Homo sapiens: one gene and its partner. The protein of the gene in region 2 purifies or fractionates together with the protein of the main gene of each other region. This does not show direct contact. Each region holds a gene or a part of one and is shown on either strand. Other genes may lie near its edges.

Region 1 (7,046 bases), on a different chromosome or scaffold from region 2:
GGGGCTTTTCCTTTTTGTGAATTATCTTTATTTCTGTGGCTAAGCCACTAGATTGTTTTTTCTGCCACTTGCACTGGAAGCATCCTGGCTGATACTACAAGAGCCCCTGAGCCCCAGCCCTGGCTGGGCCCCGCCCTCAGCAGGAGTGGGCTGCACTCACGTCAGGCTTGAACGGCGGCTCCAGCATGCCAGCTCCCAGCCGCTTGAAGTTCAGCTTCTTAAAGAGGGGGTGCTCCTTCACCTCGCGGGCACTGCCCCCACGACACCCCAGGCGTTCGGCAGGGTCCTTGCAGAGGAGCTGTGGCAGGGGTGAGTCGGCCAGGCAGGCCAGGCAGGTGAGTGGGTGGGAGGGAGGGAAAGGTGCATCCACCCCAGCCCTGGCTGGCCAGGCTTCTGTGAGCTGCCGTACCTGTGAGCAAAGTGAGCGGGCCTGCGGGGAAAAGCGCTCGGAATACTCCTCGGGGACCTCCTTCACCAGCCGCTCCACCTCCTCCCGCTTGATCTTCTTCTTCCTCTGCTGGAAGGGCGACTGGCCTGCGATCATCTCGTACAGGAGGCAGCCGAGCGCCCACCAGTCAGGGCTGAACGTGTACCGTTCATTCTTCACCACCTCCGGAGCTGGGCGGGCGGCATGGGAGTTAGGGCTGGGCAGGAGGCGGGCAGTGGACCCTCAGGCCCCAGGAACGCCAGTGCACGTTAGGTCTGGGATACACTCACACCCGCTGGCCAGGGGGGACCTTGGCCAGTAGGAGAGCACAGGCCCCATCAAGCGGGGTGAATACGGCCCTGCAGGAGGCCGCGCCCAGGGTCCCCGGGTCTTCAGATTTTACACAAGAAGTCAGAAATCTGTATTTTGTATGTGAAACCATCTGGCTTACTAAAAACAGTTTGACTTAAACACAAATGTAGGCCAAATTGGGCCCATGTGGCTACCATTTTGCAACTTCTGGATTTAATATCAGCGAGAAGAAGGAAACTCCTATTTTCTGAATACCTCCTACCTGCCAGGGCAGCCCTGTGGGGAGTTTTCCCTGAACTCTCCCTTTTCATCTTCCAGGCAGCCCTGGGAGGCAGGTATGATGAGTGTTTTCCAGTGGAGCAGAGTGAGGCCGGGAGCAGCGGAGTGTCTGGTTCAAGGCCACGCAACCGGCAAGAGGCGGAGCCTGCAGAGCCAGGACTCTGCCTCCTGCGTCTCTCGGTCTCCAGGTGGAATGTGGGGCCTCATGTTGGCCCCTCCACTGGCCTCCCTCACAGATGGGCACAGGGAGGGCAGGGACTGGGGCCACGGAAACAGGTTTGGGTCTCTCTCCTCCATCCCCCGGTAGCCACCTGCAGGCTCAGCCATAGCAGGGTTTAATAAGTATTCAGCAAATGAACGACATGGCTTCACAACTGTGTGCGGCCCCGGCTGAGTCTTGGTCTCCTAACCTCTAGAAGAGGAGCATCGGCATGGGCCCTTTCTACTGAGGCCCCTTTTGAGAGAAGACTCCCAGACAGAAGTGGGTGTGGCTGGGTGGGTGGATAGTGAGGGAACCCAGGAGGCTAGTGGGCCGGGCAGAGAAGACTCACCCATGTAACCCACGGTGCCCACACGCCCTTTGATGGTCTGGCCCTCGGGCACATGCACAGCTAGTCCCAGGTCAGAGATGCGGATGTGGCCTGAGTGTGGGTGGAGAAACAGGTGGACCCGTTAACAGGCCAGGCCTCTGCATCTCACCCCACCCTGACCCACCCCAGGCACCCTTACACACCGTGGTCATCCAGCAAGATGTTCTCGGGCTTCAGGTCCCTGTGCAGAGAGAAGAGCAGGGTCAGATGCTGCTCAGTTTGCCAGGGAGTCAGAAGGGGCCAGCCCCCCCAGCTCACTCGCCTCCGGGGGCCAGGTGTGGAGCAAGGTGCGAGACTCATTTGCTGCCAGGGCGACAGACAGCCCTGCTCTCCCTGGCAACAGCCCGGACTCAAGGGAGCAGAGGAAGGATCTAGAGCCAGGACTCCCAGGACTCTCTAGATGAGTGGAAGACAGCTCCACCCCGGAGGGGCCTCCCCAGTGGAGACCAAGGAGTCTCCACCCCTTGGTGACTGACTCTGCCTTTCCTCTCTATCAAATGGGACTACTCATCCGTCCCCTGACTAGGCTGTTGTGAGGTTCACAGGAAGTCGGCAACAATCAGAGCCAGGGTTCTCTCTTACCCAGCCCCATGTGCCAGGCACTCTGTACTTAGCTCACTGGGCCCCTCCAGTAGGAAGTTGGGCCTACTTCTAACAACCTGGGAAGTAGGAATTATAGTCTCTGCTTCCTAGAAAAGGAAGCAGTGTTGGGAGCAGGGAGCTCCTGGCCCAAGGTCACACGGTGGGGGGTGGAGGGGTGACAAAGTCAGGATACCCCGTGGGTCCAGCAGAGCCCAAAGCCTAGGTCTGGGCTACTCAGGTTGGCCTGGCGTGTGAGTTAAGCCGGTGCCACAGCCCCCAAACCAATGTCCTTCTGTAGTCTGGCCTGATCGGCAGCCTTGGCCACCCCCGTCCAGGCCCAGCTGCAGTCGCTGGCAGGGAAGGACTAAGCCCCTGGGGTGGCCGAGCCCTCCCCACCTGTACACGATGCGCTCCCGGTGCAGGTCCTCCAGGCCACAGCAGATCTCGGCGGCGTAGAAGACGGCCCGCGCTTCGGGGAAGCCAGCCTGGCCCATGTGGTAGATGTGGAACTTGAGGTCGCCCCCGTTCATCAGTGTCAGCACCAGGCACAGCGCGTCCTTGGTCTCATAGGCGTAGGCCAAGCTCACCTGTGGCCGAGGGGACCCGAGCCCTCAGGCAGGAGCTGCGGGGCGCTTGGCGGCAGGGCTGCCCAAAAAAGCCTTCTCGGTGCCACTCCTTGGGCCCAGCCTGCTCCCCAAGCCTGGTGTCAACACCCCAAACCCGCCCTTCCTGGCATCCCACATGGGAGGGTGGGGCCTGGGGGGTGGGGACGGTCGGTGCGCCAGTGTGGCCAAGGGGAAGGGAGAGTCTCCTTCTGTACTTACTACAAACCTACTGTTCACTTTCTCCAGGATCTGCTTCTCGTTCAGCGCCATGGCCTCCCCTTTCCGCTTCTTGATCCGCTTTTTCTCTAGCTTCTTGCAGGCATACATCTTACCTGTGGCCCGCACCTGGCAGGCGCACACCTGTGGCCAGACAGACAGGGGCGAATGGGGGCCAGCTGTGCCATTGCTGGGCATCCAGGGGGTGGTCCAGGTCCCAACACACCCACCCTATTCACTCTCCCAGGGGCTCTGGCCTGGCCACTCACCTCCCCAAAGCCACCTTTGCCCAGGACTCGGTATTGCCTGAAGGTGTTTTTGGTCACTGGCTGCCTGTGGCAAGGGGTGGGGAAGCAAACGCTGGCTGAGCAGGAGAGCCCAAGGCCTATGAAGAACCCCGGCGACCTGGCCTGTCCCGGCCCAGCCTTCAGGGAGCTCACCTTTCCAGCCACTTCCACTGCAGGAAACGGTTGAAGTAGATGCTGTCGAGGTAGTCGGCAAAAGGGGCCACGCTCAGGTACTCGTGGGTCAGCCTGTTGAGGAAAGGCAGGCCCAGCTCACCCGCCAGCCCCTGACACCTCAGGCTCTTGGCTTGCTGGGCCAGGCCTCCCGTTCTGTACAGGCTTAGCCCACAGGTATCGTCGTCGGCCAGTCCTCCTGCTAACCCCTGAGCGGGGAGACACACAGCCTGTGCTGAAGCTGTGGGTGCTACTGAGAGGGGAGGCAGCCTGCTCAGGTCACACAGCAGGGGCAAGGCCAGGGCTGGGCAGCTGAGCTCCCTCACCAGCCACCGAGCTGTTCACAGTCTTCCTGGCCCCCAGAAGCCCCCTCCGCTGGGCATAATTCCAGGCTTGTGGGCAGGGACAGGCTTACCGGGTGAGTTCCTGGAAAAGGTCTTTGCAGGGACCCTGCTCCAGCCGCTGGGTGCAGTTCGTCACCAGCTGCCGGGGGACCTCAGGGATGAGGTCAGGACCCTGGGAACAAGCCCCAGACAGGTCAGTGCAGGGGCTCCCTTGGATGGCTGCCCACTTCCAGGGGAGAGGGGTCAGGCAACTCGGGCTGGTGCCATGAGAGGCTGCAGGCCAGGGTGTGCCAGCCAGCCTGGTTGCTGAAGTCCTTCCTGCTGCCCACCCATGAGGCAGAGCGCAGCAGAGCCACTGGGAGGCCGCCTGGCCCAAGCCCAGCCCATACCCTGGGCTGCATGCCCGCCGTGCTGCCTGGAGCAGCTCCAGGGCACTCTCTGTCCAGGCTGTGTGTTACATGTGTCTGTATGAAGAGACCACCCTCAGAAGCCTGACACTGTGGTCACTCCTGTGCCTGACACGGGGCTCTGGTGGCTCCCATCATCTCTCCATCGCTGCTCACTCACCGTGTGGCTCAGAAAATTCTGCGTTAGCTGCCGCCCACATGCCTTCCGCTTGTCATCCGGGGTCACTTCATACTCGGCCTGCAGGGTGGAAAGCAAAGAAGCTGGAGGTCTGGGCAGGGCAAGCAGCAGGTGTGGGGAGGAGGGGCACATGGGGCCAGGACCTCGGCCACCCGCGGGGCTGGGCAGGGCTGGGCTGCACTCACCACCCCATCCAGGAAGGCGACGCAGCGGCTCAGCTCCGGCCTCGTGGCACAGAACTCTCGGAACAGCAGGCGCCCAATGGGCTGCCGCTCGCACAGGCTGTGATAGTCACGCTCTGTTGGCAGTGATGGAAGCTGCTGGGTCCACAGCCCGAGAGCACATGGGTGGGGCATGTGCCCACACCACCAGGCCCTGGGCCCCCACAACAGCTTCCAGCTCTGCAGTGTGGTAGCCACAATCTTCTTCAGAACCCTCACCACAACCCTCAGGTGGGCACAGCTGTTTTGGGGCTGTGAGGCCCAGAGAGGCTAACTGACTAGCTCAGTGTCACACAGCCGGGAGTCTGGCTCCAGAGCCCAGGCCTCCATCCACCTCCCTGCATTGTCTCCTGATTTACACGACTTGCGTATGTCACGGTACTGGGGTTGGGTGCGGTCCGTGAGGTTCCGGCCCAGCCCAGCCGGGGCCAGGCCCACACCTGCTGCCTGCCTGGCGAAAGTGCGAGAGGAAGCTGTGGCTTCCGGCAGGCTCTCAGCTGGGCCTCCTTCCCAGGAGGTGGAAGCAGCCCGGGTGTGCTCTGCGCACGTGCAGGCCACCGGGGGCCTCAGCAACCTTGGGTGCTGCTCAGACCTGGGGCCTTGGCCAAGATTGGCAGGAACTGGGGTCCTGGGCCCTTCTGTCCCCTCCCAGGAGTAACCCTGTCACACTGCCCAGGCTGAGGGCTTCTGGTCAAGGATTTGCTGGGCACCCCTCAGGGCTGGGCCTGGGAGGCTACGCCCCAGCCTGGGGGTCCCAAGGCAGTCAGTCTGTGGGCTGGCCCAGCTGCTGCTCCCTCTGTCCTGTGGGCCCTGCTCACCCTAGCTGGCTCTCCTTTTCAAAGTGGAATCAACTGCCCCAATCTGCCCCTGCCCTATTCCCGACACCCGCTTCAACCACCCTCGGTGTGACCCTGTTTGCTGTCTGCTCTCCACCCGTCCCAAGCCCAGGAACTGAAACTGGGCTGAATGGTGCAGTCCTCATCCTCCTGCTCACTGGAGCCCCCAAGTCTGCCCCTCTGCTCCGGGGCAAGGTCTCAGGGGAGGCTCCCCCGGCCCCAGCAGGGCCCCTCGCCTCAGCACCCCCAGTCTCTGCCCAGGCCTCACCGAGGCTGAGCCGCAGCTCTTCGCACTGGCTGATGTGAGGGAACTGGAGCATCTGCCGCCATTTCTTGCTTTTGCCTTTGCGATTTCCACCGCCACCTGTGGGAGCAATAGGACACTGGGTCTCGAGTCCCACTGCCTCAGAACTGCCTCTGGGTCCTCAGTGCGGTCCACGGCCTCTAGGGCCCAGCCAAGGCAGAGCTGAGGCAGAACAGCACCTCAGGCCTTCCCTCTGCACGCTCCAGCACGCCCTTGCTGCGTTCCAGGACACACGTGCTTCTCCTGCTTCAGGCTCCTGCACTGGGAGAGCCAAGAGAGGCAGTGAGGTCGCTGCGGGAGGACAGTGTTCCAAGTAGCTCCAACAATGGGTCCAGCCCCAGTTGCTTCCCGCCAGGTAGGAGTTCCCCCGGTGAAGAAAGGGGAGAAGGACGTCACAGTGCTGAGAAGTGCAGAAGGCCCGGGAGGGAGAGATTCTAGGCCAGTGGGGCAGGCCTGAGAGACGCACAGGGCAGCATGGGGACAAGGAGGCTCCCAGGCCTCTATCACCAGGCCCCACATCAGAGATATCAGACGCTCAAATGAGGCAGGGGCAAGGGGGCTGGCACCCAGGACTCCCCGTCCCCTGCACACTGGGGCTTCCCCGGTCCCCTGCCTGTCTTGCTTGACCTCGCAGACACCCCATCTGCAGCAGCTGAGGTCACAGCAGCAGTTCGATTGCCTGCAGAGCCCAACAGGTGTGGGAAACGTGGGCCAGATGTGAGATGACCAGGAACAGCGAAGGCCTCTCTGACAGGGCCAGCTGCAGGAGAACGCCAGCTGATTGCTTGATTGCTGCTAGGAGGGTTTCTGGCTCAATGTGGCCAGCTCTTCTGATTTTTTCAAAAGCAGCCGGAATTGCAGACTCTAACATAAAATATTGGCCCCCATTTTGTTTAAAAAAAAAAAAAAACTCACTGCAGCCAAATAAAATGTGTCAGGGAGCTAGCCAAATGTGTGTGGCCTGTGGGCCACCAGGTTGAGGAGGGTGGAAGGGGCCTGAGCCTCCCAGAGCTGGGTCTGAATCTCTGATTCACACTGTGGCCCATCACTCGCTATCTGTGAACCTCAGCTTCTCCATGTGTGTTACGTAGTGAATGGGAGACACTGTCCACATCAAGTAGGGCTGAGTCAAGAGGTGAACCCCAACTCCAACAACGCCATGGCAACCTTAGACAACCACTTTCTCATGCTGGGCCTCAGTTTCCCCTCTGGCTTTCTAGTCCTGTATCCATCTGGCCTGGGTGAGGGCAGGTGGTACAAGGGCAGAAGTTGCCTTCTAGGGAGGGG
Region 2 (7,046 bases):
ATTTTCTCAGACAGCACAGGCAGGCAATAAAGCGTCACAGATTGTCCCCTAACCCCATCCAGCCATGTGTATGAGTGTGTTTTATTCAATGGGATAGTACTGAGCACATGAAAGAAATGAATGACTTCTGTCAATCTCTTTTCATTCAGTCTTCTCATTCTGTCAATTGTTTTCTCATCCGCAGTGCCTCTGCCAGAACTGTGCTCACATCCATTATTTAAGCCAGATCTTTTCTAAGTATTATAGAAGTGTAGAGGCACATAGAATAAATAAAACCAGACTTCAAACAATGTTTCATTCTTGCCCATTGCTCCTATTCCCTGTTAAGAATCAAGGGTAAGAGTGGTATGTTCACATTCCTTTCTGAGGCAGATGTCTATATCTCCATTTACAGGCAAGGAAACTGAGGCCTAGAGAAGAGAAATAACTTTCCTAGGTTCCCACAGGAAGTGCATGATGGAGCTGGGGTTGACATTCAAGTCCACCTGCCTCCAAAGCCCATGCTTAGGCCCTGCTTCTTTTGTGGTGTCTTTTCAAGACAAAGGAGTAAAAACAACCTTAACTGGTAAGTGTTGCTCCAACTTGCAGAAGTGGCATTGGGCAGAGTGTTTTCTCACATCAGTGTTGATTTAAGGCAGCTGCTATGGCTCAAGCATTGCTTGAAGGGCTCTGTGCTCAGGGTTTGTATGTTTGTAAGGCACTGATGAGCCTGTGTGTGTTACATATCTTTGATATTAAGGAAGAGTGCACAGCAGTTGCCAGGAAGTGATGCTTTTGATTTTCTATTTTGAGGAAGAATGAGGTCATTTAAATAACTGCAGTATGGGATTTGTCTGAGACTTTGTTCCTCTCCAATGTGATAATAGAGGCTTCTTCCCAGGAAGGCACCTGTTAGGGAAGTGATCTTCAGCCCACATGGAGCACCCCATAAGGAAGTAATTAGTTGTGGCATATATAGCTGTTTAATGGGTCTTCCTGATTGTGTGGGTTTTCTGTTCAACTCTTCCTTGGCTGCCGGAAAGAAGATGAATGCTTGGTCAGACCATTACCCACTGTGAGGCATCAGTTGCAGTGCTGTAAAGGTCAGTGATTCATTTTCTGCCTCTGCACTCTTCACATGGGCAATTCCAGTAGTGTGTCATTTACAGTCATGATTCTCAACTGCAGGGAGGAAGTTACACCATCTCAAGGCAGAGGCTATAGGATGAGGAGGAGCAAGCCATCCCAAAGATGTCTGGTGTGTTGACCTGGGTGAGAATTATTGGCCACAACTTCAGATTAGATCCCAAATATGCCACTTTCTACCTACCCATGGTGACTTGGTGCTCTAGTTTGGCTTGTTTGACTCCTGCAAACCTCATGGTGAAATTTGATCCCCAGTGTTGAAGGTAGGCCTAATAAGAGGTGTTTGGGTCATGCGGGTGGATCCCTCAAGAATAGCTTGGTGGCACCTTTGTGGTGATGAGTGAGTTCTCACTCTTAGTTCCCATGAGAGCTGGTTGTTATGAAGCCTGGCACCTCCCTGCCCTCTCTTTGCCTCCTCTGTTTCCATACAAGGGGAGTCTGCACACGCAGGCTCCCCTTCCCCTCCACCATGAGTGGAAGCAGCCACAAGTCCTAACCAGAAGCAGATATTGGTGCGATGCTTGTACAGCCCGCAGAACCATAAGCCAAATTAACCTCTTTTCTTTATAAATCACCCAGCCTCAGGTATTCCTTTATAGCAACACAAATAGACTCAGACACTGGGGAAGCCATTTAAATTATCTAAGCCTCTGTTTGTAAAATGAGGGATATGACTCTCTGCAGTTGAGATAAGGATTAGAAATGAAAATGAAGCACCCACTAAAAGGCCTGGTACAAGCAAGGGCAAATGGTAATAATGAGGTCTAGACAGATTACAAACTGAGTCATACCCCTTATTTTCTGTATCTCTGGGTAAGTTACTCCCTGGGTCTCAGTTTATAATCTGTAATACAAGGATTAGAACAATAGCTACTGTTGTGGGTTGAATTGTGTCCCATGAAAGAATATGTTAAAGGTCTATGCTGGTGTCTGTGCTGTGGCCTTTTGGGAAGTAGGGTCTTTGCAGAGGTGGTTAAGTTAGGATGAGGACATAGTGCATTAGGATGAGTTTTGATCTAGTGACTGGTGTCCTTATAAGAAAAGGGAAATTGAGAGAAGAGAGAAGATGCAGGGAAGAAAAAAAGCAGAGGTTGGGGTGATGCATCTACAAGCCAAGGAGCACCAAGAATTGCTGGCAGCCCCCAGAAGCCGGAGAGAGGCAGGGGGCAGATTCTTCCTCAGAGCCTTAAAAAAAAAACCCAACATGGCTGACCCCTTGATTTCAAACTTCTGACATTGAGAATTATGAGAGAATAAATTCCTGGGGTTTTTTTGTTTTGTTTTGTTTTTGTTTTTGTTTTTTTGAAATGGAGTCTTGCTCTGTCACCCAGGCTATAGTGCAGTGGTGCGATCTCAGCTCACTTCAACCTCCGCCACCTGGGTTCAAGTGATTTTCCTGTCTCACCCTCCCGAGTAGCTGGGATTGCAGGCGCACGCCACCAGGCCTGGATAATTTTTGTATTTTTAGTAGAGACGGGTTTTCACCATGTTGGCAAGGCTGGTCTCTAACCCCTGACCTCAGGTGATCTGCCTGCTTCGGCTTCCAAAAGTGCTGGGATTACAGGCCTGAGCCACTGCGCCTGACCCTGTTGTTTTAAACCACCCAGAGTGTGGTCATTTGTCTGAGACTTCGGAATTCAAACCTGCTGGAAGGAACGTGGTAGACATGTCAGGAAGGGGTTTGACATTCAGTTTCTGCCCCCAGGTCTGAGCCTGCATGGCTGGCTTAGCCACCGTCAGATGCTACCTGCAGGAAGCCTTCCTGAACTCATCGCCAAAGGAGGGTGAAGTGTGTCATTTTTAGAAGCGTGCTTCCTTAAAACAAGCATTTAAGGATCTCTGTCTTTAAATAATTTCTCAACTGGTATGGGAAGGAAAACCGTAGTTCCCCTTTTTCACTTCACTAGAAACTAAAACAATACTTTTATGAGTAATGCTGAGGTAGCAGGCTGCAGACACAATTGGGAAGCTTCAGCACAAACATGAGAAATCGAGAACCTTTGCATCCTCGCATATCTGGGCAGCTCTCCAAGCCAAGGGGACTGAGGATTGAAGAGCTTAACCACATAGGTTAAGCAAATTGTGTATTTTTCCTTGCACTTTTTTTTTTTTTTTTGAGACAGGGTCTCGCTCTGTCGCCCAGGCTGGAGTGCAGTTGGCGTGATCTCAGTTCACTGCAGCCTCTGCTTCCCGGTTCAAGCGATTTTCCTGCCTCAGCTTCCCTAGTAGCTGGGACCACAGGCATGTGCCACCATGCCCAGCTAATTTTTTTCTGTTTTTGGTAGAGACGGGGTTTCGCCATGTTGGCCAGGCTGGTCTCAGAAGTGATCTACCCGCCTCGGCCTCCCAAAGTGCTTGGATTACAGGTGTGAGCCACCGCGCCCAGCCCTTCCTTGAACATTTTCTGGCCTCTGCTTGTGCTTCCAGGCTTCTTTCTCCCCAGGGCTGCCCCCTCTTTTCTAGTCCTGCCGTGTTCCTGCCTCCATGGTCTTGTTCTTCTTGCATCCCTTGCCTGGGATCAGGACTGCCCTTTCATCCTGGAAAGAGGCCCTGCTCTGGCCTTCCTCGGGCTACGTACATCCCCATTGGTGAGGAGACAAAGGGCAAGCGCACCCAAAGCCCCCACCCCTCCTGTTAGATCAAATGGAGCCCCAGACAGAATCCCCTGCCCTGTGGTCTCAACCCCACTTTTAGGGCTGCTCAGGTCTTTCCCCTGGTCCAGCCTCCTGAAAGTGAACTGCGCTGCTAAGACCAAGAGGCAGCCAAGGGGCAGCTGCTTGTAGGATGGAGCCAAAGTGGGAAGAGAGAGGGGCAGGGGTTGGCCCAATGCTAGCTATACCTGAGCCACCATGCTCCAGAGCAGAGCAGTGAGGAGTCAAAGATTTCAAAATTCAAACCTGCTTTCTCGGGTCCTGATGAAGGGATATTCACCATGGTAGGAAGATAAAACATATTTCAAATTTTAAATACTTGGATATATGGCATGTGGACCTGTATTTGTACTCTTGCATGGGCTCTGCAGATGGGAGTGGTGGGCGCTTCCCCTTTTCATCTCCCTCCCGATCTTGCCCATTCTTCAGCGTACTGCACGTGCACACACATGCTCCCTTCTCCTTACACTCTGATATCTGCATTTACCTCATTATTCTACTGGGGACAGCTCTCTGAACTTTTGGCAGCCTTTGATCCTTTCTATCTGCCCTTGAAAGTCTCTTGGAAGCTATGAGAGAGACTTTATTCTCCCTTTGCTCCTGCAGCCCCTGAAGGTCCACATTCCTGAGGGCCCTACCCAGCTCCCTGAGTGATTGTTTGAAATAGAACTACTCAGGAGTGCGGTGCCTGCATTGGACTTTTTACAAGCAAGAATAAACCTTTATTTTGTTCAGTTCCTGAGATTTTTGTGGGGCTGGTTCCTACAGTGTAACCCACCCTACTCTGACTAACATAAGATGTCCTGATACCTGTTGTCCAGGGGATGAGTACTGAGGGAACAGGTTTGTCACTGTCGTAGTCTGTTTAGGCTGCTATAATAAAATACCTTACGCTAGGTGGATAATAAACAACAGAAACTTACTGCTAACAGTTCTGGAGGCTAGGAAGTCCAAGATCAAGACAACAGCAGATTTGATGTCTATTGAGGGACCACTTCCTGGTTCATAGATGGCACTATCTCACTGTATCCTTACATGGTAGAAAGGAGAGAGAGCGGACCAGGCACGGTGGCTCACACTTGTAATCCCAGCACTCCCAAAGTTGAGATATATGCCTCAGGCTGAGACAGGCATATCACGAGGTCAGGAGATTGAGACCATCCTGGCCAACATGGTGAAACCCAGTCTTTACTAAAAATACAAAAATTAGGTGTGGTCGCAAGTGCCTGTAATCCCAGCTACTCGGGAGGCTGAGGCAGAAGAATCGCTTGAACCAGGGAGTTGAAGGTTGCGGTGAGCTGAGATCACGCCACTGTACTCCAGCCTGACAACAGAGTGAGACTTGGTCCCCCCTCCCTGCCCCCAAAAAAAGAAAAAGGAAAAGAGAGAGAGAGAGAACCCCCTGGGGTCTGTTTTACAAGGGCACTAATTCCCTTTGTGAGGGCCTCACCCTCATGACCTAATCACCACCTAAAGGCTCCACCTCCTAATACTGTCACAATTGGGGGTTAGGTCTTCAACACATGACTTTTGAGGAGATATAAATATTCAGTCCATAACAGTCATGCAGACATCAAAAACTATTCTACTCCTCTGAGTTATCCATATTATCTAGTATTCCTTACATTAAAAAATAAAGGAATATGCAGAGAGAAAAAAATTCTTTAACCTCACATTCCTTTCCAGTTCTACCTCTATGATCTTCTTCACAGCAACATTTTTGAAAGAACAGTTTTTAATGTTTGCCATCGCTTCCACACCTCTTTCTTCCTTTACCTACAACAATAGCATTTCCATCTCAACCATTCTACCCAAACCGTCAAGGTCACTAGCAATATCTAAATTCAGTAGTCACTGTATTGTCTTCACCTACCTCTCTACCACAGTTGCTTGCATTCTTCTTAACAAAAGAGAATACTGTTTTATAATAAAATATAATAAAATAAAAAAGTCTAGCTAAGAAAAGCTAGACTATAATGAATTTCATCATATTGTGGTGGTGATTATCTCTGTATAGTGGGATTAGAATAATTTTCAAAAATTTTCTTTGTAAATTTTACCATATAGACTAGATATCATTTTAAATAAATGATAGATCATTTAAACTAATGACAAATTACAGATGATAAATGAGATCAGTACTATACAACTTTTAAGAGTAATGGTTGCATTTCTACTGTCCATGCCCACAGTGGAGAAATCAGATTAGCTGTTGGGGACCACCTGAAACTCCATCTTCGTAGAGTCTGATGATGGAGGTGCTGCCTGGTACCCAAAGCTCCTGGTTTTCTTGGTTATTTAGTAAATTACTAAAGACCACGTGAACCAAAAAGAACAGGGCCGGCTGTCAGATAGACCAGATGGATGGATGCAACCATTCACCTTCCTCCTGGAAGCTTTGGAACCCGGAAACATCATGACATTTGTGATTTCTCCCCTTCCTCTGTAGACAGTGGTCTCTTTTCTTGGTCTCCTTTGTAGGTTTTCCTCTTCTTTCTCTGTCCATCTCTAAATAAAGACAGAGATTCCAGGGCTCAGTTTTGCCATCTCTTTTCTTCTCTTGGGATGGTCTTATCCAGTGAAATAGCTTTGAATGACTCTAAATTTGTAGCTTCAGCCCAGAGGCTGGTACTCAGCAGCCCACTGATAGCTGTGCTTGTATTAGTATTTCTTTACAGGCTTTTCCATCTCAGAAAATGGCACCACCATAGACCCAGTCGCTTAAGCCAAACACCTAGGAGTCATCCTTTCCCTTTCCCTCACTCCCCAGATCCAGTCCATCAGTAACTTCTGTCAGCTCTACCTACAAAATATATCTTAGTTGATGGCTCACCACAGCCACTGACATTATTACAGTACAAGCCACCATCTCTCTCCTGAACTTCTATTAGATTGAACTACGTAGCATTGCTGCTATTTTATAATTGTTGAGCTACCAAGTGGCAATTTCATGTGTGGTTCAACCTAATTAAAAACCTCCTATCTCCTCTTTCCACACTTGCCCCTCTATAGTCCATTCTCCACACAACACCAGAATGTTTATAAAGCATAAATCAGATCGTCTATCTCCGTGGATTAAACCCTCTGAAGACTTAATTTAAAATTAAGTTGGGTGGGTGCTGGCTCGTGTCTGTAATCCCAGCACTTTGGGAGGCCAATGCAGGAGGATGACTTGAGCCCAGGAGTTTGTGACCAGCCTGTGCAACATAGCGAGACCCTGTCTCTTAAAAAAAAAAAAAAAAAAAAAAAAACAACAACAACAACAACAAA

The links. The genes of interacting proteins can lie anywhere in the genome.
Region 1: the proteins of RUBCNL (region 2) and GRK6 purify together in Homo sapiens (affinity purification with mass spectrometry; 2 studies listed by BioGRID and IntAct, with this or other methods). This does not show direct contact.

The regions. Positions count from the first base shown.
Region 1 is NC_000005.10:177,429,645-177,436,690, reverse strand, and holds part of GRK6 (G protein-coupled receptor kinase 6), read right to left. Parts: intron 5,820-7,046; coding exon 5,724-5,819; intron 4,981-5,723; exon of another isoform or gene 4,755-4,980; coding exon of another isoform or gene 4,697-4,754; coding exon 4,584-4,696; intron 4,459-4,583; coding exon 4,381-4,458; intron 3,986-4,380; coding exon 3,885-3,985; intron 3,545-3,884; coding exon 3,452-3,544; intron 3,345-3,451; coding exon 3,281-3,344; intron 3,156-3,280; coding exon 3,015-3,155; intron 2,778-3,014; coding exon 2,587-2,777; intron 1,790-2,586; coding exon 1,752-1,789; intron 1,660-1,751; coding exon 1,570-1,659; intron 619-1,569; coding exon 410-618; intron 299-409; coding exon 161-298; intron 1-160.
Region 2 is NC_000013.11:46,335,242-46,342,287, reverse strand, and holds part of RUBCNL (protein associated with UVRAG as autophagy enhancer), read left to right. Parts: 3' UTR 1-7,046. UniProt on the Homo sapiens protein: Regulator of autophagy that promotes autophagosome maturation by facilitating the biogenesis of phosphatidylinositol 3-phosphate (PtdIns(3)P) in late steps of autophagy.